Linked DNA regions of Homo sapiens. The protein of the gene in region 1 interacts with the protein of each later gene in a biochemical or structural test. Each region holds a gene or a part of one and is shown on either strand. Other genes may lie near its edges. The genes, in order: TAL1 and KAT2B.

The links.
Region 2: the proteins of TAL1 (region 1) and KAT2B form a complex in vitro, tested with the Homo sapiens proteins (one study listed by BioGRID).

What each region holds. Positions count from the first base shown.
Region 1 is NC_000001.11:47,225,675-47,229,494, reverse strand, and holds part of TAL1 (T-cell acute lymphocytic leukemia protein 1), read left to right. Parts: intron 1-143; 5' UTR 144-299; intron 300-3,605; 5' UTR 3,606-3,606; coding exon 3,607-3,820. UniProt on the Homo sapiens protein: Implicated in the genesis of hemopoietic malignancies. It may play an important role in hemopoietic differentiation. Serves as a positive regulator of erythroid differentiation.
Region 2 is NC_000003.12:20,151,425-20,154,974, forward strand, and holds the end of KAT2B (histone acetyltransferase KAT2B), read left to right. Parts: intron 1-907; coding exon 908-1,101; 3' UTR 1,102-2,980; downstream 2,981-3,550. UniProt on the Homo sapiens protein: Functions as a histone acetyltransferase (HAT) to promote transcriptional activation. Has significant histone acetyltransferase activity with core histones (H3 and H4), and also with nucleosome core particles.

The DNA.
Region 1 (3,820 bases):
TGTTTGCGATTCCCTGGACTGGTTGGTCGGGGACAGGAGGTAATTCCCAGCCATTGACCCCCATTTCTCTCTCTCCCTCCCTCTTGCCCTGCCTCTTTCTCTCCACCCCTATCTTTCCTGGAAACTCGCTTTGGGCGCGGCAGATCGCCCAGGACCACACCGCAGCGTAACTGCAGGCCTCTCAGCGAAAAAGGGGGAAAGCAAAGACCCGGGTGTGCATCCTCTTCCTCGGCTTCCGCCCCTTTCCGGCGGAGTGGAGATCCTATTCAGAGGGGCCGGTCTCTCTAAATATGCCCCAGGTGAGTTTTCAGGGGAATGGTGCCGGTGGAAACGGTGTCTAGGAAGGCCTTGTGTTCCGGCCTGGGGTGAGGAAGGCTCAGGACAGAGGAGAGCCCATTCTCAGATTGGGGGTGGGGGGAGGGGAGGACCAGCCAGAGCTTGGAATCGGGATCTGACTGCTGTAGCTGCCTCTGTGGCATTCAGCGGCTTTTTCCCTTTTCCACCCAGGGTAAAACCAGCTAGTTGGACTTAGTCGTCCAGGCCTTTCCCATTGGTCCCGGTTCTGTGGACGTTTCCCAAGGCCGGTAACTTTGGGGCGGCTGTATCCGGGTGGTACAGACTGTGCCTGGAGCTCCCGCAGGAGGAAGGCGGCAGCCTTCCTGGCTAGTGCAGTCCCAGCTCGAGTGGGCCCTGATCCCAGGCCTGAGGCCTAGGGTGGGGAGGCAGGAACACCCCTCTTCTCCGGTAGAGGCGAGGATGGTGGTGCTGTTCCCTGGTGGGTTTGGTACTTGTGCAGGCTTGGGGCTTCTCCAGGGTGTTGTGCTGGTGTGGGCCCAGAAGAGAGACCAGAGGCTGGGTCTAAGGGCCTGAGGCTGTTTTCATCTAAGAAATTCTCTGTATGGGGGATTGGGTCTGCTTGAGACCTGTCCCCAGGAAGAATCTCCTGGGGTCTTCTGTCTTGTTCTGGCACAGGTGGAAATATTCTGGCTGTCTGGCAACTGCAGATGAGGATTTCCTGTTGGGGGCTATAAGCAGGGTCTCCGTAGTACAAAGAGAGAGGAGCTGTAGTCGTCAAATACTCTAGAACGATTCAGTCTAAAATCTCCCTCCTCCTTCATTCTCCCCAAATAAAAACAAACAAAATCTCTCGGGCGTTCCTTTCTGTAATCCAAATCAAGTGATGCAGCTTAGTCGCCAACAACCATCAGTGTTTGTGAGTGGCTTCTTTGGGGCATGGACCTCTGGCTGGTAATCCTAAACCGGCAGGATTTTCCTAAAATGTGGGGAGGAGCCGGGAGAGGTCCTCCACAGATCCTGGGATCCAATCATATATTTCTTACAAGGAACCTTGGCGATGGGATATTTATAGGTGTCTGGAGAGGACATTTGTGGCCAGGGTCAATTCATCTGGAATATGTACTCCCATTGCCTCTCAGGAATCCACCGCTAGAGCAGGAGCCTAAGAATTAATTGGAGGGTAAAAATGTGTCATAACAGAGCTTGAGCTCAGTCTGCAACTGCAGTGCACACTGTCACTCGGTTAGAAGCTGGGGCTTAAGCATGGATCACTGGGCTCACACCGGTGTGTCAGGACGGAGAGCAGTGAGGTAGGGAACCAATACCTTGAAGCTTGTATGTTTCCCAGGGGTTGGTATATTTCTGGCACATTTCGCTGCTGCTGGGAGCAAGAGGACCTGGCTGATATACTTCTGGTGCATTTCCAGTGGCCTTGGTGTCTTGGTGGTTGCATTCTATGGATAGAGACCTATTGTCTCCACCAAAATCATAAACTCACTTCCAATGAAGTGTCAGGGACCTACTGCCTTTACAGCTTGTATACACCAGGACTTAGGGAATTTTGTGGTTTCTGTGCCAGACCTGGGGGGCTGGCATTCCCAAAGAAGGTGTACAGCAGTCTGAATCTTGACTCTCTGTCATCCTGGGTGTCTAGTGGCAATTGAGCCAAGCTCCAGAGGAGGCTGCAGATGATCCATTCTCCCTTCTGGGGTGGGAGGGATGGTTCCTAGGATGACTCCTGTCCAGAGCATTGCAGTGGCAGTATGGGAGCTCAATGGCTGCTATGTATGATTTAGATGGACTCTGCATGGGGGTAAATTGTTTTTTTGTATTTGTTTTCTTCTTTTAAATACCCAATTATATAATTCAGAGAGCAGAAAGCTTATTTTAAACAACTTATGTGGTGTTGATCATATATGTACAACTCACAACTCACAAACTCTGGCCCTTGAGTCTCCTGATTTTTCTGTTTTGGTTCTTGCTGGTGCCCAGCTCTATCTGGATGAAGCCAGGTGATGGAAGAGCCCCAGCACACCTGTGGGAAGTAGAGTGGCTGTGGTCATCTCGGAGTATGCTTGTGGGGTCACAAGGTGGTTTCACTGCTCTGGGAATACAGGAGGGTTGAGCAAAGTGAGATTATTGCTCTGGTCTGGCTCTCTCACAGATAGGCTGTGAGTGACTTGACATTCGGCCAGGCAGTTTTCTCACTGGCCCATTCTCCTTGTTAATAATGTTTACTTGAACGTTTGCACAGCACTTTCAAATGCATAAAGGAGGTATTCCTCCCATTTCCCAAAGAACACCAAGGCAGGAGATGGCGGTGAGGGGGGCTGGAAGAGTTCAAGGGCCTCATGACATCCTGTCCTGCTCTTGGATGGGAGTCCAGACCCCACTGGCCTCAGGGAACCCTTCAAATGCCCAGCTCCATTCTACCTCAGCCAGGCCTCTCTTTGAGACTCGACCTCACTTCAGAGTCCAGCTGAGCAGAACGAGGTGGACTGTGCAGGGAGGTTGGGCCAGCACCATCTTCTTCCCTTGGCGACCTCTCATCTCTGTCTGAGTGGGAGTAAAGATCCGCTGGGCGGGCAGAGGACTCACAGTGGATTTGCTCAGTGTAGACAGACACTCCCTCACTCCCCAGCGGGGGCGAATGTGTGTGTGTGTGTGTGTGGAGGGAGCTGGTTCCTCGGGATTATTCTCTGCCAGCTCTGGCGGAGTGGATCCCAGTCCCCGTAGCCTCCACTTTCTAATTCCCTACTTCCATCCGCACCGGGTTTCTGGGTGTGTGCCTGTAGGTGGGCTGGGAATATTGCTGAGAGGCCAAGGGAGGTTCCTAAAGCAACGAACCCCTGCCTGACAGATTCCCCGCTAAAACCAAAGAGCACGATCCGGAATTTGTTCCCTCCTCTTCCCTTTAGGCCTGAGAAAGGGGACAGAGTAATCTCTTTCTTGCCTCCTTGTACATTTCCTTCCTCCTGATTTCCCCTTCTGTGTTTCTGTCGCTGGCTGTATTCCTTTTCTTCCGGTGTCTCTGTCGTCTTCCTCCATCTCTGTCCTTTTGGCCCTCAGTCTCTGTGTCTCCCAGGCACCCCTCCCTTCTCCCAATCCAGAGACCCTCTTTCCCTCCCACCCTAGCCCCAACCGGCCTCCCGCCCTAGCCCCACGTGGCGCTAACTTTGTCTGCCTCTTCTCACGTCTCGGTGCGTGAGTTCCTCTCTCTGCCCTTCTCCCCTTTACCCCAGCCCACGTCGGTGGGTCAGGGGCGGTCGTCAGAGCGGGCATCCGCTTGTCTGTCTGTCTGCCCACAGGATGACCGAGCGGCCGCCGAGCGAGGCGGCTCGCAGTGACCCCCAGCTAGAGGGACGGGACGCGGCCGAGGCCAGCATGGCCCCCCCGCACCTGGTCCTGCTGAACGGCGTCGCCAAGGAGACGAGCCGCGCGGCCGCAGCGGAGCCCCCAGTCATCGAACTGGGCGCGCGCGGAGGCCCGGGGGGCGGCCCTGCCGGTGGGGGCGGCGCCGCGA
Region 2 (3,550 bases), on another chromosome or scaffold:
TTGGTAGTCAGAAGTGGGGTTTTTTTTTTCCCATTTGACTTATTTTTCCACACATAGTTAATACAATTATAGCTTTTAACAATAAAGCCAGACTTCAAGACAACCAGGGAACCATAAATAGACAAATGTTAGCGTCTATTCTAATCTGCATAGAATTCCTTAAATTAGTCCTGACAGTGAGGATTGAAGAAACCCTACTTTAGTTTTATCAGTTTAGATGGAGTACTGTTTTCACCTGTAAAATACTACAATTTAAAGCAAGTAGCTATATTGGGAAATATTCTTTGCAATAGTCTCACAAGGCTTACTTGCTTTAGAAAATAGATTATTAAATGAAGTTTGTTATTCTTATTTCATTGATGGAGCTTGAAGCAAATTCATTTGAATCATTTTACATGCAAGGGCACTGGTGTGTTCACAGATGTATTTATTATCAGTTTCTCTATATGACACCAAAACAACTGTGAGTTTAGTGAAACAAATGCAGTCTGATTGTTTTAAGTAATTAAATGATTGAATACAAACGTTCCACCTGCTCTACTCCATATAGATAGAGCCTCTTCTGTATAATTCTGACTGAATAGCTAACAGTAGTCAGTTCATCATACTTATTGTTGCTAATCTACTTAGCTTCCTTGTGCTGAATAGGGGATTGAACCAGATGACTAATAATGGTCCCTTTAATGCTAAAATGGCTGTGATTTTACATTTTTAAAAAACCCACAAAAGAATGAACTTAAGATTTAAGAACTGTTTTCCTTGGTCATAAGAATTTCTCTTAAATAAAAGCATTGGGATGATAAAAATGTAATCAAACCAACAACATAGATTCCTTTCCCAGTCCCAGTTTTGTCAGCTGGTGTTTAAAGGGAGTCAAAGATTGCTAATATTTTTTTTTCCTGTGCAGATCTGAAAACCATGAGTGAACGCCTCAAGAATAGGTACTACGTGTCTAAGAAATTATTCATGGCAGACTTACAGCGAGTCTTTACCAATTGCAAAGAGTACAACCCCCCTGAGAGTGAATACTACAAATGTGCCAATATCCTGGAGAAATTCTTCTTCAGTAAAATTAAGGAAGCTGGATTAATTGACAAGTGATTTTTTTTCCCCTCTGCTTCTTAGAAACTCACCAAGCAGTGTGCCTAAAGCAAGGTGGTTTAGTTTTTTACAAAGAATTGGACATGATGTATTGAAGAGACTTGTAAATGTAATAATTAGCACTTTTGAAAAAACAAAAAACCTCCTTTTAGCTTTTCAGATATGTATTTAAATTGAAGTCATAGGACATTTTTATTTTATGGAATAGATTTTAATCTATTTACTACTATTAAGGTAAATTTTCTATGGCATGTCCATTAGCTATTTCATGATAGATGATTAGGGGTTTCCTCAAAACCTGTGTGTGAGGAAATTGCACACAGTAGCAAAATTTGGGGAAATCCATAACATTTTCAGACCATGAATGAATGTTTCCATTTTTTTCTAATGGAATGTGAGAGTTTACTTTTATTTTATTCTGAAGGACTTTAAGGAAGGGATACATGATTTTAAAAAAGCCTGTAAGAGGTGAAATATGTGATGTTTGAAGTCTCTTTATAGACTTTTTATATATATTTTTTAAAACACTCATCTAGATGAGGTGCTTTGAGCAGTTCTGAAAAATGCAGTTCCAGGAAAGCAACTGCTTTGGTTCCTAAGGAAGAAATTCTAAATAATGCAAACTTTTAAAATAAGCATCTAGGTTTTTGATAATTCTGTCTACTTACAACAAACTTGTTAGTACATAACCACTATTTTAATAATTATTTTCTCTACACAAATGTGTAATATCATATTTGACTTTGCTTATGCAGGCCATAAGTTCCAAAAGATAATTTCCCTGCCCACAAAGGCATAAACTTGAAAACACATGAGATTGAATCAACATGCTTTAATAGGAAAAGATGTATGGTCTATATATGTATCAATCTGGTGAATCCTCGTTCTAATAAAGGTTCTTTTTCTTTTCTATGATACACACAGCCACGCTGATAATATGCAAATGAACATTTTCCTTTATGTCTCTCCAGATAATGTTTATTGTCTGAGGTAAATTAAATTCCCACCAGGGTTTGCTGTCAGTATTTTAACACCCACATTAGTATATGCGTCCAGGGTCATAACCCCCTAAAATCCATCATGCAACCTTATTAATCTGTCTTGGGATTCCAGTTTAGTGCTTGGATTTATTTCCTGATTACACTACATAGAAAAGTGAGACATCTGCCATTCCCAACTCTGGGAAAACCAACTAATATACAACCATATAAATGAAGGCCATCTTGATGGTCTCAACACTAATTTTTATGATGCAAATTTATACACTGATTTTTGTAAAGGACAAAGTTTTAAAAGCGTATTTAACTTGATGTTTTCTATCAGCATAAATAAAATGGTCATGAATAGTCATTAAAAACAGTTGCCAGTGATAATCTGCATGAAGGAAAAAGAACCCTGCAAATGGCTATTGAGTTGGAAGTATTGTTTTTGATATGTAAGAGATATTCAGAATGCTCACACTGAAAATGCCTCAACTTTTTAAAGTGTAAGAAACCACCATGAGTGGTGTCTAGATTTCTAATGAAGAATCATGATACAGTTTGGATTAAGTATCTTGGACTGGTTTTAAACAGTGCTTTGTACCGGATCTGCTGAAGCATCTGTCCAGCTGGTATCCTGTGAAAGTTTGTTATTTTCTGAGTAGACATTCTTATAGAGTATTGTCTTTAAAATCAGATTGTCTCTTCTATATTGAAAGCATTTTTATGTTTTCTAATTTAAAAATTAATATTTTCTTATAGATATTGTGCAATAAAGCTGAAGTAGAATGTGTGGTTTTTGCAAATGCTTTAACAGCTGATAAAAATTTTACATTTGTAAAATTAATATATTGTACTGGTACAAAATAGTTTTAAATTATATTTTAAAAAGCTTCCAATCTTGTGGTGTGTTTTATTCATTCAGTAGGCTGAGGTTAACAGAACAAATTATGATCTGGTTGATAACCATCAATTGAATCCTTAAACCTTAGATCTTAAGCATTCTGTTGCATTTGGGGGAGGTTTCATAAAAAATCCATAGGTCATCAGTAAGAGATTTTCAGGAGAGACACTTACTCTGTCTTTTGAGTTATCCACTGCATCTTACCCACTCACCCGCTAAACAATAACAAAAAAGATTCATTGAAAGAAGAGTGTTGTTGGTTTAGAAATTAAAAGATTTTTGTTTTTATACTTTGCATCTGTGAAATATATATGATGAGAGAAAAATACAGCCGATTTTTAAACATCTCCCATATGAGCTTCTAATGTGATTCAAAATGATGTCTGTAGGAAAGAATACTATATCCTTTTGGGGTTTGAGAGGACCCAACCAAGAGAACCCCTCTTCCCTACTGAAATCTAAACCAACTGAGAAGTTAAAAAAAAAAAAAAAAGGCATATGATGGCCAAAGTATTACCTTTAATACTAGTAAAATGGATATTGGAGAATGTGGCTTCCTTTTATC